3 linked regions of the Homo sapiens genome follow. The protein of the gene in region 1 interacts with the protein of each later gene in a biochemical or structural test. Each region holds a gene or a part of one and is shown in the gene's direction. Other genes may lie near its edges.

Region 1 (7,936 bases):
GCTATGCCCACCAGAAGGCCAGTGTCCCAGGATGTGAGGAGTAGGAGTTGGGGGATGGGATTGGGACCTGGGGATTGATGAGAGGTGCTGAGGCCCTGGCGGGAGAGGGGGCTGTTGGGAGAGTGGAGAGAGGGGAGCCAATGGGCTAGAGGAGAGGGAGGGGGAGGAGCTGGTCAGGCCCCAGGGCCTTCCGCACTGCACTGGCTGGGGGAAGAGGCGGCGGCCAGGGCGGCCAGCCTGGAGCCTGAGGCACCGGGCTGGCCCCAGTGACACCTCCGTCCCCATCCCCAGAAATACCGCTACCAAGATGAAGACACGCCCCCTCTGGAGCACAGCCCGGCCCACCTCCCCAACCAGGTAAACGCCCCCGAGCTGGTGCACGTGGCGGAGAGGAACTTGTCCCACCTCGAGGCTGGCCACGGGGTCGTGGGCCACGCCCACCTCTCCCCCTTCAAGGTAGGAGACCCTGGTGGCCCCCTCCCCAGTGCGGCCCTCGGAGCCTCGGAGCTGCAGCAATCCCTAAGGGCCGGTAGGGTGAGAGAGAGCCGTGGGGAGGGGGATGCTGGGACTGGGGGCGGGGGTTTGGGGCTTGGGCTCCTGGGGTCTGGGGGAGGGGGCGTTTGTGGGGCTGGAAACACCTTGGTCCCACAGAGGAGAAACAGGCCAGGCCAATGGGAGTGGATGTAAAGCCTAAAGCAAGAATGTGTGTGTGCGCGCGTGCCTGTGCGCGTGTGCTGTGTGTGTGCCTGTGCGTGTGTGCATGCATGCGTGCCTGTGTGTGTGCTGTGTGTGTGTGTGCGTGCGTGCGCCGTTTGTGTGCCTGTGCGTGTGCTGTATGCGTGTGTGTTGAGGTGTGTGCATCCCCCAAGAGGCCCCCACGCCTGGGACCTCTTCATTCCTTCACACCCCCAACCTCCATTTCCATTTTCTGTGTCCAGAGCTCTGTTCCAAGCGCCTGCTGCCCTCATTTGCTCTTGTCCCTTCCCCGCCTCCTCCCCCTACCTCCGCCTCTGGGCCTGGCTCGCCCTGTCCCCAAGTCTCCAGCTCTTTCCATCTGTCTGGCCTGAGACTTCACATGGTGGGGCCTTGCTGCCTCGTCCCCTGCCCCAGCTTTGCTCCACTCCTGAGTTCTCTTCCCCCTCTGCAGCCTTTCCTCCCTGCTGGCTGGCTGGCTGGCTGGCTCTTGATGCTGTCTCTCTCTTCCTCCCACGCATTCTCCTCTCCCTCTCCCTGATCCCCAGCCCAGGCCGCTGGGGCCTGATCAGTCCTTTCCCTCATCAGTCCTCTCCCTCCATCAGCCAGCTCCCCTTTCCCATGTTCCCTCTTGCCTATTCATCTTCACCTTCCCTCTTTTCCTCCTCCCCTCTCTCATCCTCTTGGGTTCTCACCTCTGCCATATCTTCTTTCTATCCCCCTCTGCCCCCTCCATCATCCCCCACCACCTGTTTCCCTTTCTCCTCTCTGCTCACAGCGTCCTCCTCTCTCCAGTCCCGGGAGGCCTGGTTTCTGGGACCTTCCATTCTCCAGTCCACTTTCCATCTTCCCCTTCCTCCATCTCCTCTTCTGGGGACACAGGATGGGGAGGACTGGAGAGCACCAGGCAAGCTGTGAGATTGAGGGGACACTGTGGGGTCAGGGTGGGGATTCTAGGATGTTGTGGGATGCTCTGGGAAGGGGGAGGTTGCTGACATTTCACCAAGAAGATGGGGAGGAGGTCTCTGAGCCTAGGGAGCGGGCAAGCAGGTTCTGGAGTTAGAACTGGCAAGAGAGGAGTTGGGGGATAGGAAGGGTAAGAGGTCCTGGGTCAGGGGCCAGATAGGGATAAGACTGTGAGATCAGGGCAGTGAATGAGGCTGACAGAGCAAGGAAAGGAAGGCCCTGGAGACAGGGATGGTACAGAGTGTTTGTGCGAATTCTGTGGATGCTAGGAGTGAGGGAAAGAAGACTAGAGATGCTTTGTGCAAGGCAGGGCCATTAAATCCCTGAGCAGGGGGAAGAGGAGGTAGGGAGCCTGAGGGGTGGTAGTTAGTACAGAGCTGCTGCTGATCAGAGCTCAGGAGCAGAAGGGGGTGGAGGGAGAGAGTGTTGGAGGCCATAAGCATGGGGTGGAGGTCTCAGGACAAGGCCTCACCTGGGGAACAGGAGAAGCCCCAATTTTCAGAAGAGAGGGGAGTTGATTGAGAAGTGTAAGATTGTTACTTGAGAATAATCTTGAGGGTATGAAGGTAGGGTAAGGGAGAATGGTGATAAACTCTCTGGGGAATCAGAAATTGAGATGGAGTAGCTGGGTGGGGTGGCATGTGCCTGTAGCTACTCAGGAGGCTGAGGTGGGAGGACTGCTTGAGCCCAGGAGTTCAAGGCCGCAGTGAGCTATGATCACACCACTGCACTCCAGCCTGGGTGACACAGCGAGACCTTGTCTCTGGAAAAAAAGAAATTGGGATGGAGGATGAGGCCACATTGGTAAGGGATGGGGCTGGAGGGTGCGACAGGGCCAGGGAAGCGGATGGAGAATGGAGGCTGGGGTTGGAAGATGGATGTTGAAGGGCGAGACAGGGATGGAGATGGAGCATGTGGGATGCGGGCAGAGATAGGGATGGGAAGCAAATGAATGTCGTAGTGGATGAAGGTGGGTGTGCTGGGAAGGAGGTTCCAGGATAGGGATGGGGATGGGGATTGAGGATGGGCTATGGGATGGAGGACGGGCTATGGGATGGAGGACGGGCTGCGGGATGGGGGACGGGCTGCGGGATGGGGGACGGGCTGCGGGATGGGGGACGGGCTGCGGGATGGGGGACGGGCTGTGGGATGGGGGACGGGCTGTGGGATGGGGGATGAACACGTGGATGAGATTTTGGCAGTCAGTGACTGTTGGTTGGACAACAGCATTTGCTGATATGTGAAGGGTTGGAGGGTGGTGTTAATAGATTTATGGGTGTGAAATCTGTGATACAGCTTGAAAATGGTCGGTAGTTTGTAGGCTTGAGAAATAGCAGTAGGAGAGGGGAGGGACCCCTTTGGACGGGGAGAGCGGGAAGGAGACTGGGGAATCCTTGCGCTTGGGCGACTGCAAATACATGTTTCTTTAAGGAGGAAGTAGGTTGGGGACCCCGGAAGGAGGCTCTTGGCGGCCTCCCCCCATTGCCATAGAGACGTGGCTTCGGTTGCCCTGGCAATTGGGGAAGCCCCTAGGACCGGGCTAAAGCGGGCCCCGCCTGGGAGTCTAGAGACCAGGCGATTGACGTCAGGGACCTGGGCACGCCCCACTTTAACCCTTTCCCGAATGAAGTGGGGGGAGGGAGTAGATGAGCGGGATAGGACCCGGATGTCTTTCACCACTCCCAGTTCCTGACGTCCTTTGCACTGCGTAGGGTGAGGGGCGTAGGGGAGCGAGGAAGGCAGGTTATTCAGGATGCGCTGCGCCCACAAACCTCTTCAGCCCGGCCTCCTCTCGGCCTGGCTAACGTGGGGCGGGGCCCAGGGCAGGAGAGGCGGGGCTAGCGGATCCCTTCTGCGCTCAGGAGTTTGGTCGGCCCCAGGCCACGCCCCACCCCCCTGTTGTCCTGACGACAGGGCCTCCTGGAGGTGGGTCTCCCCGGGTCTTGACTGGTCCTAGATACCGTTGCTAGGCAACACGGTCCTTAGAGGAAGGGGTGGATTGGACGGCTGGTTGGTGAGACCGAGGGAGGGGCCTGCAGCTGGGGAACCCCGGATTCCCGGGGTGCAGGGTTTAGGGCAAATGTCTGTGAAAGTGAGGGGCAAGTCTAGGGGAGGGTTATGAAAATATCTGGGTAGATATGGGGGGTTGGGGGGATGGGGCAGGAAATGGGGACCAGGACCCGGTGGACATGATCCCTGGGGTGTCCATGTGTAGCACATAAGGCATGTAACACCCTGTGGTGTTACATCCGGTGAGAAGCTCCCTTCCCCCAAGCCTACCCCCCTCTCCCCACTCTTTGCCATCTGCTGCTCCCCTCTCCGTCTGGCTGTCTCCCTTCCCGCTTCTCCTACACCTCCTTCCACATGCAGGGGGCCCCGGGCTGGGCAGAGTTAGATCCTTGCGCGTGTGCATCTGTGCGTGTGTGTGCGCGTGCGCATGTGCACGCGTGTGCGTGTGTGTGATGTGGATTGAGGCTGGGCCCTTGAGCAGCTCTCAGGGTGGCGGAGTGGGCTTGGCTAAGAGGCTGAAAGGGTAGCCACGCTGATGGGACCCTCCGTTATGGGCTCCCTCTCGAGTCAAGGCTCAGGCTGCTTTTTGTCTCTTGTTTTCCCAAACAGGCCAATTCTCCCCCAGTGATTGTCAACACAGATACCCTAGAAGCCCCAGGATATGTGAGTTGTTTAGATTTTGGGGCTGGGGCCATTGCAGAAGGAAGGAGGGAGTAAGGGAGGGCAGCAGATGACGGGCAGGTGGTCAGACAGGAATGTCTGTCTCACTGCTTTTGTGTTTCTGTCCCGTGCTGGAGTTGCAGGTGAACGGGACCGAGGGGGAGATGGAATACGAGGAAATCACATTGGAAAGGGTGAGCAGGCTCCTCCATCGGCAGTCCCCGTGGCCTCCCGTCTGTACCTTTCTTTCTGCCATGTGGTCTGGGTGGCTAGCCCCTCACCCTGTGCCTTCCTCCTCTGGCTGCTCCAAGCCATTTCCCACCCCACTTGCCTTGCCAGACTTGGGCAGTGAGGGGAGCTGACCCTCTTCCCCTCCTTCACCCAGGGTAACTCAGGTCTGGGCTTCAGCATCGCAGGTGGCACTGACAACCCACACATCGGTGACGACCCATCCATTTTCATCACCAAGATCATTCCTGGTGGGGCTGCGGCCCAGGATGGCCGCCTCAGGTGGGGAGAGGAGACAGGGGTTAGGTTGCTTGGTCCCTGGAGAGGGAGGGCCAGGGCAGCAGGAAGCTCTTGGCTCAGGCCCACCTTGCTGCTCCCAGGGTCAACGACAGCATCCTGTTTGTAAATGAAGTGGACGTGCGCGAGGTGACCCACTCAGCGGCGGTGGAAGCCCTCAAAGAGGCAGGCTCCATCGTTCGCCTCTATGTCATGCGCCGGAAGCCCCCGGCTGAGAAGGTCATGGAGATCAAGCTCATCAAGGGGCCTAAAGGTAGTAACTCATTTTGTTCCCACCCCCATCCCAACTGTCCTGTGCCCCCAAGCCTGCTTCCTGGGCACCCACCTCTGGCCTCCCCTCCATCCAGGTCTTGGCTTCAGCATCGCAGGGGGCGTAGGGAACCAGCACATCCCAGGAGATAATAGCATCTATGTAACAAAGATCATCGAAGGGGGTGCTGCCCACAAGGATGGGAGGTTGCAGATTGGAGACAAGATCCTGGCGGTGAGGACTCCATCTAGCCCATTTTCTAGCCCAGATTTGGGTCTCACCTACTAGCCCTGGCAGGCCCAAGTTCATCACTTCACCCCAGTGCTTCTGTCTTGGGCCATTTGTGGCTTTGTCTGAGCTTTGCTTTCCTTGACTCCAGGTCAACAGTGTGGGGCTAGAGGACGTCATGCATGAAGATGCTGTGGCAGCCCTGAAGAACACGTATGATGTTGTCTACCTAAAGGTGGCCAAGCCCAGCAATGCCTACCTGAGTGACAGCTATGCTCCCCCAGACATCACAACCTGTGAGAGCCCTTCAAACACCAAAGTTCCCCATGACCCATCCCGTTTAACCCATGACATGCAGTCCCACGACATCCCTGTAGCTGTCCCTCTTCAGATATTCCCTATGAAATAGCCACAACCTCTGATCCTTGCTGTTGTTGGAGAAGAGATGGAAAATCAATTACCATAAAAGAACTAGAAAAGATCGTCAACGATCTCTCTCCTGGAAGGCACAAAGCCTGGTTGGTTTTATGGCTAATTTTGTGAAATTCTCAAGGAATAGATAATTCTTCTGCTCTTCCAGAGTACAGGAAAAGATAAAAGATTTCACATTTCATTTTATAAGGCCAGTTCGAATGGTCACAAGGATAGTGTAAAATAAGGAGAGTATAGACCCGTTTTGCTTCTGAATAGAGATACAAGAGTTTACAATAATATAGTAGCAAAGCAAACATGGCAGCATGTTAAGGGAATAACATAGGGTTTGTTTCAGAAAACTAAAGATGGCTCAATATTAGGAAATCTCTTAATATGATTCATATATTAAAACGTTACGGGAGGCTAAGTGTGGTGGCTCATGCTTGTAATCCCAGCACTTGGGAGGCCAAAGTGGGAGGATTTGAGACCAGCTAGGGATTTGAGACCAGCCTAGGCAACAAAGCGAGATCCTGTCTCTAAAAAAATTAAAAAAATTAGCACGTGCCTATACTCCTTGCTACTTGGGAGGCTGAGGCTGGAGGATCGCTTGAGCCGAGGAGTTGGAAGCTGCAGTAAGCCAATGATTGCGCCACTGCCCACCAGACTGGGTGACAGAGCGAGAGGAGAAAACGATGTGATTATCTTAAATAGACGTGAAAAAGGCATTTGGTGAAATTCACCATCTCTTTTGGATGAAAGCTTTTAGTAAACTAGGAACACAGAAATTTTCCTTAAGATGGTGAAGACTAGTTATCAGGAACCAGTAACAAACATTTTATAATGATACAATTTTAGCAGTGTGTCCATTAACTTATTTTTTAATTTAATTTTAATTTTTTTCTTGAAATGGAGTTTCGCTCTTCTTGCCCAGGCTGGAGTGCAGTGGTGTGATCTCAGCTGACTGCAACCTCTGCCTCCCAGGTTCAAGTGATTCTGCTGCCCCGGCCTCCCGAGTAGCTGGGATTACAGGTGCCCACCATCACGCCTGGCTAATTTTTGTAGTTTTAGTGGAGACAGGGTTTCACCATGTTGGCCAGGCTGGTCTCGAATGCCTGACCTCAGGTGATCTGCCCTCCTCGGCCTCCCAAAGTGCTGAGATTACAGGCGTGAGCCACCGCGCCCGGCCTCCGTTAACTTACAAAGAGGGCAGGGATGCCTCTTCCCACTGCTATTATTCTTCATTGCTTTAGAGCAGGGTTTCTCAGTGTTACTCCTGACATTTTTGGACCCAATAACTCTTCATTGTGGGGGGTTGTTCTGTGCCTTGTGGGATATTAAGCAGCATCCCTGGCCTCTGTCTATCAGATGACAATGGTACTCCTCCCCCTCAGTCATAACAATTAAAAAATGTTATGACAGAATTGCCCCAGCGAAATTATGGTGGTTGAGAATCACTGCTTTAGAGATTTCAGACAGTGTAACAAGACAAGGAGAATAGTTACATTTGGAAGGGAAAAACAAAAGTTATCTCTATTTGTAAATTATACTACTGTGCATCTAGATCAAAATCTAAGTGAATTAACTGGAAAAATATGCAAAGTTAAGAATGTGGCTATTTGTTGGCTGGGCGAGGTGGCTCATGCCTGTAATCCCAACACTTTGGGAGGCCAAGGCGGGCGGATCACCTGAGGTCAGGAGTTTGAGAACAGCCTGGCCAACATGGAGAAACGCTGTCTCTACTAAAAATACAAAAAAAAATTAGCTGGGTGTGGTGGCGAGCGCCTGTAATACCAGCTAATCCTGAGGCTGAGACAGGAGAATTCCTTGACCCTGGGAGGCGGAGCTTGCAGTGAGCCAAGATCTCACCACTGCACTCCAGCCTGGGCGATAGAGCGAGACTCCATCTCAAAAAAAAAAAAAAAAAAAAACCAAAACAGGCTGGGCGCGCCGGTGGCTCATGCCTGTAATCCCAGCACTTTGGGAGGCCGAGATGGGTGAGTCACCTGAGGTTGGGAGTTCGAGACCAGCCTAACCAACATGGAGAAACCCCATCTCTACTAAAAATACAAAATTAGCCGGGCATGGTGGTGCATGCCTGCAATCCCAGCTACTCAGGAGGCTGAGGCAGGAGAATTGCTTGAACCTGGGAGGCGGAGGTTGCGGCGAGCTGAGATCGCGCCATTGCACTCC
Region 2 (7,047 bases), on another chromosome or scaffold:
ATTCATGGAGGGAAATCAGTTTCAAGTGGATCTCCAAGATAAGGCAAAAGACAGTGAGAGCTGAGAAAGAGACGCCTGCACCAGACACATGGCCACACGTGGGTGCTGCTCCTGTGACCTGGGACTCAGGCACATTTTCAGTGAACTCTGAGCTTAAAGCCTCCTAGAAGAAACAATCAGTAGTATAAAACACAGTTCGTGATCTTTGGTTTGAATGTCTGAGGTCAACGGGTTACAGACATCACTTTAAGACTTAACTGACTAGGTGCAGTGGCTAATGCCTGTAATCCTAGCATTTTGGGAGGCCGAGGCAGGCAGATCGCTTGAGCTCAGGAGTTCAAGACCAGCTTGGGCAACATAGCAAAACTGTGTGTCTACAAAAAATACAAAAATTAGCTGGGCATGGTGGTGTGTGCCTGTAGTCCCAGCTAGCTGGGATGCTGAGGCAGGAGGAAGGCTTGAACCTGGAAGGTGGAGGCTACAGTGAGCCATAATTGCACTACTGCACTCCAGCCTGAGTGACAAAGCGAGACCCTGTCTCAAAAAAAAAAAAAGACTTAACTATGCATACTTTCCAAACATCCTTTTGAGCTTCTACCAGTCCACCCCATAATTACAAAGAGAAATATCATGTTGAACGGTATCTATCTAGCTGACAACAGGATTTTTGTTCAGGAACTAGAAACAAAGAGCTTTGCTGTTTTGATGACCAATATTTAAATGATAACAAAACCGGAATCTTGAGTTCCTTCCTGGTGTCCTTAGTTCCACTGTCACGTGAGCAGGCCAGTTGTAATTGTCTGCAGAAATGAGGAAGATGAGATCCCAGGAGGATACGTGTTTCCTTCAGTCCCCCAGCCAGGAAGAGGCAAATACTCATCTTGGTTCTTCTGTCTTCCTGTCCCATTTTTTTTACCTCTGTGCCAATGGTTCTCAAATTGGAGCATGAGCCAGAATTCCCCAAAGGGCTGTTAAAGCACAGATTGCTGGGGCCCATCGCCAGAGGCCCTGATTCAGTAGGTCTGGAGTGGGACCCAGTAATCTGCATTTCTAACAAGTTCCCAGGTGATGCTGATGCTGCTGGTCTTGGGATTATGCTTTGAAGACCACTGATACTTCATATCTGGCCTCCTTCATTTTCTGTGAACACTCTGAGTCTTTCTATGAACACTCTGAGACATGGAAAAGTTGGAAGAGCTATACTGGGCTACTATTTCCCTTGTGTTCAAAATAAATCCAGTTTCCTGGCAAATTCATTAAGGAATAAACCCAAAGAAGTCTTTTGTCATTATGCTAACAGAGTTGGAAGGTGTCATGACACTATCCTTCATAATTTAGAGTGAATATTCTACTGTTGAGGAAAAAGTTCAGCAAAGATGACTTGGTAGAAACAGAAGCCATGGAACAGAGCGCAGAGAGCGTGAGCATATTGACCCTGGAGTGAGCTGCTGGTCACCACCCCTTTCCAAAACAAGATGCAGCGTTAAGGCAAAGAAGGCAAAAGCTTCGGGCTTGCGTATTCCTGGGCTTCTCTAGACCGTAACAGACACCCAGATTCAGAAATCCCCTCTGCTCTATTGGGGCATCATTCTACATCCCTCATCCAAATCTGGCTGATGCAAACTGTGCAATTTTTAATGCATTTATTTTTAGCTCTTATGTGAGGAGGGCTTTGGGAGGGGTCATTTCATCAGCCAGATTTTCAACTGTCAGATATTCCCTTAAAGTTTAAAATGCAGCCAATATTCCTCCACTGTGGATGTGTTTCACCAGCAAACGTCCATACCACAAGAGCAAATACCACAAGACGTCCATACCACAAGAGCAAATACCACAAGATACCACAAGAGCAAATACCACAGAAATGTCCATACCACAAGAGCAAATACCACAGTGAGCAAATTCTGTCTCTCCGGGTGCAGCAGTGACACGTGTCACCTGTGACAGTTCATTTGTACACACTTTTGGGACTGGGGCACCAAACCTCAGAAGTGATTGGTGTGGGATTTTATGAACAGTACAGATGAATGAAGAAGTTAATTCTCTGGGGTAAGAGGCTGAAAAAGCTGATACCCAGCTCCCAAATGTTCACCAACCAGAGAGAACATGACAACAGTCAAAGCAATTTGAACGAGGTTGTGCAAAAGAACCAAAAAAATGAAAGCAGAAGCCACTTTGGAGGAGAGCTATAACCCTTGTGAGTGACTCCTCCTGAAGATGTCCCTGTCCCCTGCACTGCCTTCCCTGGCCCCCAAAAATCCATAAGAAAACACACCGCTTCTTGGTCTCTTTTGTCCACCGACTTTCTTATCTTAGAGCCTAGAGTCAGCTCCTTGAGGCCTGTCCTCCAAGGTTTGGCCACCTTGGCTCTGATGGGACTGGACTACGTTGGTAGAACACCTGGGTTTTAGAGTCAGCCAGCCGTATGTTCCAGTTCCAGTTCACAACACCACTAGCTATGACGTTTTGGAGAAGTTTCTTAACTTCTCTGTGCTTCAGTTTTCTCATCTATAAGGTGGGAGTTTGCTTGAGGGATGGATGGATGGATGGATTGGTGGGTGGATAGGAAGACAGACAGATGATAGATTATAGATATTGATGTAGACAGACACAAACACACATAAATATTTATGACTACTGGAGTATTAAAGAATTTGCTAAATGTTGAATAGGGTGCCCTGCTGAACAAGAAACACAGCAAATCTAGTTCCCTCCCTGTATAATTTTTCCAAACTTCTAGATTCTGAGCCTTTGCATGTCTTGCACTTGGAAAACAGCCCTGTGTTGGAGTGGAGTTCAGCAGCACACAAGCAGAGCTCTTCAAAGAATAGCAAAGGGCACCCCAACCTAGCAACGCAGTCCAGTAGACCTGGACTTAGCAGTATTTAATTGCAGATGTTGCACATTCATTCCAAATGTTCCTCTCATCCTTTGTTAGCTCTCAGGCTAACAAAGGTTTATCCTCTATGGACTTTTGGACTTCTGTAGGTAGACAGAAACCTCATTCATTCAGCTACCACTAACTAGACACGTGGGACATCCTAGACAGCTGCTGTGATGAAGTTCACCACTTCTTTGAAGATCAGGTTGATTACTAGTATAAATCAATGACATATATAAGAGGGAGTTTCACTTACTTGAGAGAAGAATTATGTGTAAGCCTTTAAAAGCATTCATTTACACACAACGTGCTAATTACAAATCATTATCTATTAACTAAGACCAATTTCTAGAGAACGTTTCCGTGCTGAACTTTAGTTAAATTAATAGGGAGTCACTGAGTCCACCCAAAAGTGATCAAACAGTATTTCTTTAAGAGTGTTTAATAATTCACACCAGATCTCCTCCCCAATTACTGCACATTAGCAGAGCTTTGTGCATCCCGGTATGCACTTGCTGTAGGGTTAACCTCACCCTATACCTTGGGAGGTTCTGCTCATTTCAGGGGCAGGTGCTTGAAAAGGGACCCCAGGGACTAGAACAGATACAAATGCACCAATGTTTATTGCAACATTATTTACAGCAGCTAAAAGGTAAAAATAACCCAAGCGTCCATCAATGGATGAATGGATAAATAAAATGTGGTCTATGCATACCATGGACTATTTTATTCTTATATATATACAATCATGGGGGTGCAAGTGCAGTTTTGCTACATTGAGGTAAAGTCATGGCCTTCAGTGCATTCATCAGTGGAGCAATGCACATCATACAGTGGAATATTATTCAGCCACAAAAACGGATCAAGGTCTGCCATGTGCAACACCATGGATGGACCATGCAAACTTTATGCTAAGTGAAAGAAGCCAGTCACACAAGGACAAACACTCTCTGCAGTGCCTATATTAGGCAGATTTCTAGAGACAGAAAGTAGAATGGTGCTTGCCATGGGCTGAGAGAGAGGGGATGAGGAATTACATTTAATGGGCACAGAGTTTCTGTTTGGGATGATTTAAAAAGTGGTGGAAACGGATGGTGGTGATGGTTGCACAACACTGTGAATGTTCTTAATGCCACCTAATTAATCTTACACTTCAACATTTCTTAAAGCAAGCTGTTTTATGTTATGTATATTTTGCCATGATAAAGATTATGTAGAATGATAGCACGTGGACCTAGGATCCAATTTTCAAAAGGAAAGCCAATGACAGTTGGCAGTTTTGGAGAAGCAGGGCCACAGTGGTGAATGCCTGGATATACACAGCCTATTCTTTGAAGGAGAGTTGGGTGCCGGGGCAAGAGGCAGGCTGAGTCAAGGGAAACCAAGTAACCCAGTGTGGCTCTTCTTTCCCGTTTAGGTTTCAGCACAGCCAGTCCCACAGGAGCCCAGCAGAAAAGATTACGAGACCTACCAGCCATTTCAGAATTCCACAAGAAATTACGATGAGTCCTTCTTCGAGGACCAGGTCCACCATCGCCCTCCCGCCAGCGAGTACACCATGCACCTGGGTCTCAAGTCCACCGGCAACTACGTTGACTTCTACTCAGCTGCCCGTCCCTACAGTGAACTGAACTATGAAACGAGCCACTACCCGGCCTCCCCCGACTCCTGGGTGTGAGGAGCAGGGCACAGGCGCTCCGGGAACAGTGCATGTGCATGCATACCACAAGACATTTCTTTCTGTTTTGTTTTTTTCTCCTGCAAATTTAGTTTGTTAAAGCCTGTTCCATAGGAAGGCTGTGATAACCAGTAAGGAAATATTAAGAGCTATTTTAGAAAGCTAAATGAATCGCAAGTTAACTTGGAAATCAGTAGAAAGCTAAAGTGATCCTAAATATGACAGTGGGCAGCACCTTTCTAGCGTGAGCTGTAGAGTAACGAGAAGTGCTTTATACTGAACGTGGTTGATGGGAGGAGAGACGAGGCATTCGGGCCGGTGGGGCGTAAGGGTTATCGTTAAGCACAAGACACAGAATAGTTTACACACTGTGTGGGGGACGGCTTCTCACGCTTTGTTTACTCTCTTCATCCGTTGTGACTCTAGGCTTCAGGTTGCATTGGGGTTCCTCTGTACAGCAAGATGTTTCTTGCCTTTTGTTAATGCATTGTTGTAAAGTATTTGATGTACATTACAGATTAAAGAAGAAAAGCGCGTTGTGTATATTACACCAATGCCGCCGTGTTTCCTCATCTATGGTTCTAAATATTGCTTCAATTTCAAACTTTTGAAAGATGTATGGATTTCCAGTTTTTCTTTACTTTCTCCCAGTATGTTTTAACAAAAAAAAAAAAAAGCAGGAAAAAAGGAATATTTAGCAGTATTGTTCGTTCTGATATGTGAATTTGTTTGTGACAACTAAACAAGGCATTCAGCAGTTTCTGACAATTAACATACATCATTCCACACTCCTTGTCAACAAAGTGCTTTTTCACTGCCTAAAATTTTAGATGTAGATATTTGAAATAGATTTTTTCATTTATACCAGTTTTCTTTATGATGATACAGTGTTAAAAGAAAATAAATTACAATTGATCTGTCATCCATATTTGCTAAGAATGTCTATTTCCAAGAACCTATATCTTACAAAATACACATTCTTGCTTGTGTGTCTGTGTGTGTGGGTGTATGTATGTCCACGTACTAGAAAAATTACCTGTGTGAGATTTTATTTTGACAGAAGCTATTTCATTTGCTGTTCATCTTGTACAAACTTTGTTTTTGGTTTTTTAGTATAAATGTACATCAGTTTGTTCCTTTTGTACTGTATCTATTCTTCTGACCATCTAGTGACTCAGGATATTAGGCCAGTTGAAGTGGAGTTATAGGATTTTCACACATTCACGCATACTTGGATATCAACCCTCTCTACAGGTCCGTTTCCTTACACATTTTATCCCCTCAGAACACGATAAACCATGGCCAATTCAGTTTCACTTTGGGGCCAATTACTTGAAGTATCCACAGAAAATGTAAACTGCTCGCCTTATTCCCCCAAACTTTTTGTTCATGTGGCAGGGAGCAGTACACAACTATGGAATAGATTATTAAAACTGAACTTGAAGCTAACGTTAGAATAGTGGTTAACAGAGCTAAGAAATAAGGCTAACCATCGAAAAGAACATGGGCCGCGGGTAAACTAGCTTTGCTCTTTAGATGCAAGTGGCTGAGGCCAATAGGTGCCTAGTAAATGTTAACTGTTCTTGGAAAAAATAAAAACATCAGTAACAAAAGAAATTGGCTGCCATCGTCCTTTAAAACTGGCTTCCCTTCACGCTACATAGTTTAATTCAGCTCCAAGTCTCAAGTAAATGGTTCTTTCTCCAAATTTAACAACAATCAAATGATGATAGTCAATTCACGCATAGTTTTGGAAATGAAAAGTTAACTTTCAGAATAGAGCAGTAGACAGAAATGTATGTGTGAATTATGTACTAGTTGGACATACAGGACTCCACATTTCTGGATTCCCTCACAGGAATGCTTCAGACCCTCTAGAGAGAGAGAAACATGGCACATTGAAGACAGGGTTTCCACTTCATCTGTATCATACAATGCAACAGTAAAGAGAATGTGATATGGACATGACTTCCCTATAACATAAGGGCTGGCTTAACCTTTCCAGAAGAAAGCAATAGGACTCATTCTCTGGTTGGAGTTGTGCCACAGAATTAATGTGCTATGGAATTCCTCCTCCTAGTAGAAACCGTATATTTTCTTTATGATTTTTGAGTCTTAATGCATGCCCTACATTTGCGACTCATGAAGACCAAGGATGTCTTTGCATCCCATAATTCTTTGAGAGCACATTGTGCCAGGCTGTGATTAGCTGACTCAGCTAGGAGCCTCCAGCATCAGAAGGAGAGATAGTGGGAAAAATTTAAAAGTGTTTGTAATTATTCAAGCCAATCCATTTTTCCTTTTTAGGCACATATACAAATAGATTGAGGATAGATATAGACAGAGAGAGAGAGAGAGAGATGACAGATAATACATAGCTATAGATAGATGATAGATGGTGGATGGATAGGTAGATGGAGGTAGGTAAGTCAATAGATGGGGTCTTACTTGAACTATGAAATAGCCTAAAGCCCCCACAGGTTCCCTT
Region 3 (7,936 bases), on another chromosome or scaffold:
GGGTTGGGACCTGGGATTAGCCTCCTCTGGGGGAGCTCTGTCCAACTCCCCACCCCAGACTGCCTGCCCAGGTGTGGGAGGGGGAGAGCCTTCTGCCTCGCCCTCTCCACGCCTCGCTTCTTGAATTGTCACTGGCGCTGGGAGCCTAAAGAGAAACTGGAACCGGGATAAATATAAACTGGAGGCTCTCTCCCCTGGCTCCCCAGGCCCCCCTAAGACCTCCTACTGCCCTGTACACATCATACACTCTGGTGGCCCTGGAAGTGTGTGTGTATGTGCACATGCTCGCATGGTTGCCGGGGCACAGCGGGGACCCAGCAGTGCTCCCTGTGCACACACCCGTGTGAAAGGTGATGTCAGGTGTTTGTATCAGCCGTGCGCTCTGGGGACCTGGGATGAGCTCACCTCCCACAGGCTCCACTCGGGTGCCAGTGAAGCCCTGCCATGCCGGTCTGTGTCTGGATCCATTGTTGCCTGCAAAGACTAAGGCTGGTTTGGGGGGACCCTGAGGACAGGTCGGCAGCCATATTTGGCAGCTGATGTAGGAATCACGTGACTGTATAAATGTCGTAGTGCCCTGCATGCCGGGTGGCAGCAAGACTTCCCAGGCCCCAGCCCCATCTCCGCTCTCTGAGCCTCTGGTTTCTCCGGACCTCCCTGGCCTGGCTCACAGCCCAGCTCCCCTCCTGCCATCCCCACCTGTCCTAGTGGCCTGCTGTGCTCGCATCTCTGGCAGCCTGGATTGGGGTCCTGCTGGAGTGAAGGGTTTCCTGAGGCAGGGAGTACTCATAGCCGTCTGTGCCTCCTGCTCTGCTGGACTCTGATAGAGGCAGTGGGCAGCAGGGCAAAGAAGGAAGCAGCCGCCGAGGAAGCGAAGGTGGGGTGGGGGTGCCCAGCCCTGCGGCCGGAGGTGCCATTGACCCTGAGAGCAAGAGCCATCAGTCTGATGGCTTCCTCTGGCCGGAAGCTGTGGCTGAGATATCCTTCCTTCCTCCCAGCAGCCTGGATTTGCCTCCTCCCAGGCTGGGAAAGGCTAGGGAGGCCCAGGTGGGGCTGTCAGGGCCAAAGGCTGTTTCAAAAGTGTCCTTTATTGCCAATCAGGGGGTTTGGCTGGCATCTGCTTGTGGCATGGGGTGCTGGCTCTCGTGGAGCAAGACTGAGGGCTGTCGAGCCCCAGGGGTCCTGCCCATCAGCAGCCATGCTTACCCCTGCAGAGCTGGCCACGGTAGTACGGCGGTTCTCCCAGACCGGCATCCAGGACTTCCTGACACTGACGCTGACGGAGCCCACTGGGCTTCTGTACGTGGGCGCCCGAGAGGCCCTGTTTGCCTTCAGCATGGAGGCCCTGGAGCTGCAAGGAGCGGTGAGAGGTGGGGCAGTGGGAGGCAGTCGGGCCTGCCAGAGGGCAAGGCCCAGAGGGGCTGTGCTTGGCTAGGTGGTCCCTCAGCCTGGCTGCCCCCACAGAAGTGCTGCTGGGCATCCGGGGCCTGCCCTCTGGTTGGGGTCAGCATGCGGCATTCCTCTCCTCTCTGGCACTTACTGAATTCTGTGTAGTGGGGTGGTTTGGGGCTTCCATTCTGTACTAAAGGAAGTCCCCAGAGAATAGGGACCATGCCTCTGCACTGGGCGTCCCTGTGTTGCTGCTGCAGGCTGTGCTTGTGACACGTGCTCAGTCCGTACCTGTAACGTGGCTGACATCCCCTTCCCTTTCCCCAGATCTCCTGGGAGGCCCCCGTGGAGAAGAAGACTGAGTGTATCCAGAAAGGGAAGAACAACCAGGTGGGTGCTTGGACGCTGCTCCTGGTGCTGCCTTCACCCCAGGACGTCTCCTCCCATTCTGGCCCTCGCGCTCTCACTAACCGGACACCTTTCTGCCCCCAGACCGAGTGCTTCAACTTCATCCGCTTCCTGCAGCCCTACAATGCCTCCCACCTGTACGTCTGTGGCACCTACGCCTTCCAGCCCAAGTGCACCTACGTCGTGAGTGCTGCCCTCCTACCTCGGTGTCCCCAGCCCCCCGCCCTCCTCACCCTTCTCTGGACTCGTGGATGTGGCCCACAGAGCCCTGCCCTTAAGCATCTCCTCATCACCTCTCTCTCTGTCCTTAGAACATGCTCACCTTCACTTTGGAGCATGGAGAGTTTGAAGATGGGAAGGGCAAGTGTCCCTATGACCCAGCTAAGGGCCATGCTGGCCTTCTTGTGGGTGAGTGGCTGCCCCCCATGCAGGCTGGGTGAGTCCTTGGGGCTTGGTTCCACTTGGGTCTGTGTTGGCCGGATGTGTCCATACCTCATGTGTGGCCTAGCTGACCTCTGTCTCCCATAGATGGTGAGCTGTACTCGGCCACACTCAACAACTTCCTGGGCACGGAACCCATTATCCTGCGTAACATGGGGCCCCACCACTCCATGAAGACAGAGTACCTGGCCTTTTGGCTCAACGGTGAGCCACCGGGGGGCCTGTGGGAGCCATGGGTGGGAGGTCCCCCGGGGCCCAGCCCCTCCCTGCTGACCTCCTCCCCTTCCCACAGAACCTCACTTTGTAGGCTCTGCCTATGTACCTGAGAGTGTGGGCAGCTTCACGGGGGACGACGACAAGGTCTACTTCTTCTTCAGGGAGCGGGCAGTGGAGTCCGACTGCTATGCCGAGCAGGTGGTGGCTCGTGTGGCCCGTGTCTGCAAGGTACCGAGTCTCACAGCGGTGGGCCCTGGGAGCCCTGCTGGCCCAGCGGGGCTGACCGGCAGTGTCCCCTTGCCGTCTGCCAGGGCGATATGGGGGGCGCACGGACCCTGCAGAGGAAGTGGACCACGTTCCTGAAGGCGCGGCTGGCATGCTCTGCCCCGAACTGGCAGCTCTACTTCAACCAGCTGCAGGCGATGCACACCCTGCAGGACACCTCCTGGCACAACACCACCTTCTTTGGGGTTTTTCAAGCACAGTGGTGAGTTGGCCAGGGCTCCCACAGAGTGGGGAGGAGCTGGGGTTCAGGTCAGGGACGGTGCATGGGTGGGAGCCTGGACCAGGCCTCAGAGGCAGTCCCGGAAGCCAGGTGTCCAGAAGCCAAGGAGAATGCTGGCACCTGCCCCTTTCAGAGCTGCCTGTGAAGGGGCAGGGCCCCATGCCAGGTGGCACTTGAGCTGCCAGGGCATTCTGGTACCCATGGCCAGTTTGTGCCAGGCCCTGCCTTCCTGCTGCTTGCCCTTAGCTGGGGTGGGAAGAGATAAGGTGGGTACCTGACCCTGGGCTCCCTCTCGCTGTGACAGGGGTGACATGTACCTGTCGGCCATCTGTGAGTACCAGTTGGAAGAGATCCAGCGGGTGTTTGAGGGCCCCTATAAGGAGTACCATGAGGAAGCCCAGAAGTGGGACCGCTACACTGACCCTGTACCCAGCCCTCGGCCTGGCTCGGTGAGTGCTAGGGCAGGGATGCATCTCCCCACCCAGCTGCGGTGCCATCCCACCCTGCTGATGGCCTGCCCCCCACACCCTGCCCCCAGTGCATTAACAACTGGCATCGGCGCCACGGCTACACCAGCTCCCTGGAGCTACCCGACAACATCCTCAACTTCGTCAAGAAGCACCCGCTGATGGAGGAGCAGGTGGGGCCTCGGTGGAGCCGCCCCCTGCTCGTGAAGAAGGGCACCAACTTCACCCACCTGGTGGCCGACCGGGTTACAGGACTTGATGGAGCCACCTATACAGTGCTGTTCATTGGCACAGGTGGGTGCATGGGTATGCAGGCATGGCTGCTCAAGGCTGGGCAGAAGCCCGTGTGCCCAGGGCAGGGAGATTTGGAGCTGCCCCACGGCCTTGTGCCCTCTCATTTACACCTTCTCCTCTGCACCCCCCAGGAGACGGCTGGCTGCTCAAGGCTGTGAGCCTGGGGCCCTGGGTTCACCTGATTGAGGAGCTGCAGCTGTTTGACCAGGAGCCCATGAGAAGCCTGGTGCTATCTCAGAGCAAGGTAGTAAGTTGGGCCCTATCTGCCACTGTCCCCAGCACTATCCCATCTCACTCTCTCCATCTGGCTGCTTCTCCCAGTTGGGCCTATGTGCTTGGCCAGTGCAGAGTTAGGAACACACACACATGTGGATGCACACCTTGCCTAACTTGGGGTGGGTTCCTGGAAACGAGAATGAAAACAGAATGGAATCTGCACTGCACAGGGCCATTATATATAGCCAGGTCACGGGGCTGCGCTCCCAGCATCAAGCCTTGGCAACTGCTCCCATGTTTCTTTCAGACCCTCCAAGCTGTGCTGTGGTTCTGGCTCTGGCCTCTTCCCTGACCATGCCCCTGTGACCAGACCTCCCAGGCTGTGAGATGTTTATGATGCCCTCACCATGGTGGTTTTCCTTCCAGCCCCCATTTCCGTGACTGTTTCCCTGAAGTGCTTGCATTATACCCTTGTGCAATACTCTTTTTGGTTTTTTTTTGAGATGGAGTCTCACTCTGTCACCCAGGCTAGAGTGCAGTGACGCGATCTCAGCTCACTGCAACCTCCACCTCCCAGGTTGAAGCTATTCTTATGCCTCAGCCTCCTGAGTAGCTGGGATTACAGGTGCCTGCCACTATGCCCAGCTAAAGGTTTTTTGTTTTTGTTTTTGTTTTCTTTGAGATGGAGTCTCACTCTGTCGCCCAGGCTGGAGTGCGGTGGCATGATCTCTGCTCACTGCAACCTCCACCTCCCGGGTTCAAGCAATTCTGCCTCGGCCTCCCAAGTAACTGGGACTACAGGCACGTGCCACCATGCCCAGCTAATTTTTTTTTTTTTTTTTTTTTTTGAGATGGAGTCTCGCTCTGTCACCCAGGCTGGAGTGCAGTGGCGCAATCTCGGCTCACTGCAAGCTCTGCCTCCCAGGTTCACACCATTCTCCTGCCTCAGCCTTCCATGTAGCTGGGACTACAGGCTCCCATCACCACGCCTGGCTAATTTTTTGTATTTTTAGTAGAGACGGGGTTTCACCGTGTTAGCCAGGATGGTCTCGATCTCCTGACCTTGCGATCCGCCCGACTCAGCCTCCCAAAGTGCTGGGATTACAGGCGTGAGCCACTGCGCCTGGCCAGCCGGCTAATTTTTGTATTTTTAGTAGAGACAAGGTTTTACCATGTTGGCCAGGCTGGTCTTGAACTCCTAACCTCAAGTGATTTGCCCACCTCAGCCTCCCAAAGTGCTGGGATTCCAGGCATGACCTGCTGTTCCTAGTTGCCTTGTGCAATACTCTTGTGGCATGTTTGCTACACCTCCTGAACTTTGATTTGTTTGCCTTTTACCAGCTATTATGACTCAAAATTGTCCCCTAGAACATGGAATAATGGCAGAAAGAAAGTGTGTGGTTGAATAAACACACAGATTGGCATCCACCGTTGAAACAGGAAAACATCTTATGTTATGCTGCTGCTGTTGTGAGGGCTGATGGGCCTTGAAATGTATTTCCTGCACTATGTGTGTGTGAGTGTGTGTGATTATACTTTTTGGCCTCACAGCCCCATCATCCCTTTCTAATAACGTCACGTCGATAAGGGGCTTAGGATTGCATCTGGCCTGTGTAAGCCCTCTGAGTTCTGCGGTTCTTAGAGTTCCCTTTTCAGCACTATAGCTCTGCCTTGTTCCCTTGTTCCTCCTTCTGGCGCCCCGTGCTGTGCCCCCTGCAGGAGTCCAAGCTGTCCCCATGCTGCGTTCTGGTCCGGCCGCCCCTCCCGTGGTGTGGCCCTGGCCGACCCCCCTCCTGCGCCCCGCTTTTCTCGCAGAAGCTGCTCTTTGCCGGCTCCCGCTCTCAGCTGGTGCAGCTGCCCGTGGCCGACTGCATGAAGTATCGCTCCTGTGCAGACTGTGTCCTCGCCCGGGACCCCTATTGCGCCTGGAGCGTCAACACCAGCCGCTGTGTGGCCGTGGGTGGCCACTCTGGGTGAGTTGGGCTCTACATAGGCCAGGACCTCCAGGGACTCAGGGTGGTTGGAGCCAGGCTGCTGATGTACCCTACATCCCCTACCAGATCTCTACTGATCCAGCATGTGATGACCTCGGACACTTCAGGCATCTGCAACCTCCGTGGCAGTAAGAAAGGTGAGCTTTTTCATTCCCGTCGCATCGGGCTGAGCCCTGGACCAGAGCTGGAGTTTCTGTTCTCCTCTTCCCCAGCCCTGCTTTCCTGCACTAACATGCACTCTGTTTTCTCTGCCACTACAGTCAGGCCCACTCCCAAAAACATCACGGTGGTGGCGGGCACAGACCTGGTGCTGCCCTGCCACCTCTCCTCCAACTTGGCCCATGCCCGCTGGACCTTTGGGGGCCGGGACCTGCCTGCGGAACAGCCCGGGTCCTTCCTCTACGATGCCCGGCTCCAGGCCCTGGTTGTGATGGCTGCCCAGCCCCGCCATGCCGGGGCCTACCACTGCTTTTCAGAGGAGCAGGGGGCGCGGCTGGCTGCTGAAGGCTACCTTGTGGCTGTCGTGGCAGGCCCGTCGGTGACCTTGGAGGCCCGGGCCCCCCTGGAAAACCTGGGGCTGGTGTGGCTGGCGGTGGTGGCCCTGGGGGCTGTGTGCCTGGTGCTGCTGCTGCTGGTGCTGTCATTGCGCCGGCGGCTGCGGGAAGAGCTGGAGAAAGGGGCCAAGGCTACTGAGAGGACCTTGGTGTACCCCCTGGAGCTGCCCAAGGAGCCCACCAGTCCCCCCTTCCGGCCCTGTCCTGAACCAGATGAGAAACTTTGGGATCCTGTCGGTTACTACTATTCAGATGGCTCCCTTAAGATAGTACCTGGGCATGCCCGGTGCCAGCCCGGTGGGGGGCCCCCTTCGCCACCTCCAGGCATCCCAGGCCAGCCTCTGCCTTCTCCAACTCGGCTTCACCTGGGGGGTGGGCGGAACTCAAATGCCAATGGTTACGTGCGCTTACAACTAGGAGGGGAGGACCGGGGAGGGCTCGGGCACCCCCTGCCTGAGCTCGCGGATGAACTGAGACGCAAACTGCAGCAACGCCAGCCACTGCCCGACTCCAACCCCGAGGAGTCATCAGTATGAGGGGAACCCCCACCGCGTCGGCGGGAAGCGTGGGAGGTGTAGCTCCTACTTTTGCACAGGCACCAGCTACCTCAGGGACATGGCACGGGCACCTGCTCTGTCTGGGACAGATACTGCCCAGCACCCACCCGGCCATGAGGACCTGCTCTGCTCAGCACGGGCACTGCCACTTGGTGTGGCTCACCAGGGCACCAGCCTCGCAGAAGGCATCTTCCTCCTCTCTGTGAATCACAGACACGCGGGACCCCAGCCGCCAAAACTTTTCAAGGCAGAAGTTTCAAGATGTGTGTTTGTCTGTATTTGCACATGTGTTTGTGTGTGTGTGTATGTGTGTGTGCACGCGCGTGCGCGCTTGTGGCATAGCCTTCCTGTTTCTGTCAAGTCTTCCCTTGGCCTGGGTCCTCCTGGTGAGTCATTGGAGCTATGAAGGGGAAGGGGTCGTATCACTTTGTCTCTCCTACCCCCACTGCCCCGAGTGTCGGGCAGCGATGTACATATGGAGGTGGGGTGGACAGGGTGCTGTGCCCCTTCAGAGGGAGTGCAGGGCTTGGGGTGGGCCTAGTCCTGCTCCTAGGGCTGTGAATGTTTTCAGGGTGGGGGGAGGGAGATGGAGCCTCCTGTGTGTTTGGGGGGAAGGGTGGGTGGGGCCTCCCACTTGGCCCCGGGGTTCAGTGGTATTTTATACTTGCCTTCTTCCTGTACAGGGCTGGGAAAGGCTGTGTGAGGGGAGAGAAGGGAGAGGGTGGGCCTGCTGTGGACAATGGCATACTCTCTTCCAGCCCTAGGAGGAGGGCTCCTAACAGTGTAACTTATTGTGTCCCCGCGTATTTATTTGTTGTAAATATTTGAGTATTTTTATATTGACAAATAAAATGGAGAAAATGAAACGATTGCTCTGATGGGGCTAAGATGTTTG

The links. Proteins that work in one complex are often made in the same cells at the same time.
Region 2: the proteins of DLG4 (region 1) and CTNND2 interact in a test that uses a peptide from one of them, tested with the Homo sapiens proteins (2 studies listed by IntAct, with this or other methods).
Region 3: the proteins of DLG4 (region 1) and SEMA4C form a complex in vitro, tested with the Homo sapiens proteins (2 studies listed by BioGRID and IntAct, with this or other methods).

Annotation. Positions count from the first base shown.
Region 1 is NC_000017.11:7,200,595-7,208,530, reverse strand, and holds part of DLG4 (disks large homolog 4), read left to right. Parts: intron 1-291; coding exon 292-357; intron 358-1,259; exon of another isoform or gene 1,260-1,576; coding exon of another isoform or gene 1,577-1,600; intron 1,601-3,343; exon of another isoform or gene 3,344-3,585; intron 3,586-4,278; coding exon 4,279-4,332; intron 4,333-4,463; coding exon 4,464-4,523; intron 4,524-4,714; coding exon 4,715-4,839; intron 4,840-4,937; coding exon 4,938-5,107; intron 5,108-5,201; coding exon 5,202-5,338; intron 5,339-5,483; coding exon 5,484-5,628; intron 5,629-7,936. UniProt on the Homo sapiens protein: Postsynaptic scaffolding protein that plays a critical role in synaptogenesis and synaptic plasticity by providing a platform for the postsynaptic clustering of crucial synaptic proteins.
Region 2 is NC_000005.10:10,970,965-10,978,011, reverse strand, and holds the end of CTNND2 (catenin delta-2), read left to right. Parts: intron 1-4,298; coding exon 4,299-4,559; 3' UTR 4,560-6,176; downstream 6,177-7,047. UniProt on the Homo sapiens protein: Has a critical role in neuronal development, particularly in the formation and/or maintenance of dendritic spines and synapses. Involved in the regulation of Wnt signaling.
Region 3 is NC_000002.12:96,859,710-96,867,645, reverse strand, and holds the end of SEMA4C (semaphorin-4C precursor), read left to right. Parts: intron 1-1,214; coding exon 1,215-1,363; intron 1,364-1,716; coding exon 1,717-1,779; intron 1,780-1,881; coding exon 1,882-1,980; intron 1,981-2,108; coding exon 2,109-2,205; intron 2,206-2,325; coding exon 2,326-2,442; intron 2,443-2,530; coding exon 2,531-2,682; intron 2,683-2,765; coding exon 2,766-2,941; intron 2,942-3,263; coding exon 3,264-3,408; intron 3,409-3,497; coding exon 3,498-3,720; intron 3,721-3,851; coding exon 3,852-3,964; intron 3,965-4,243; coding exon of another isoform or gene 4,244-4,288; exon of another isoform or gene 4,289-5,381; intron 5,382-5,751; coding exon 5,752-5,909; intron 5,910-5,996; coding exon 5,997-6,067; intron 6,068-6,190; coding exon 6,191-7,020; 3' UTR 7,021-7,928; downstream 7,929-7,936.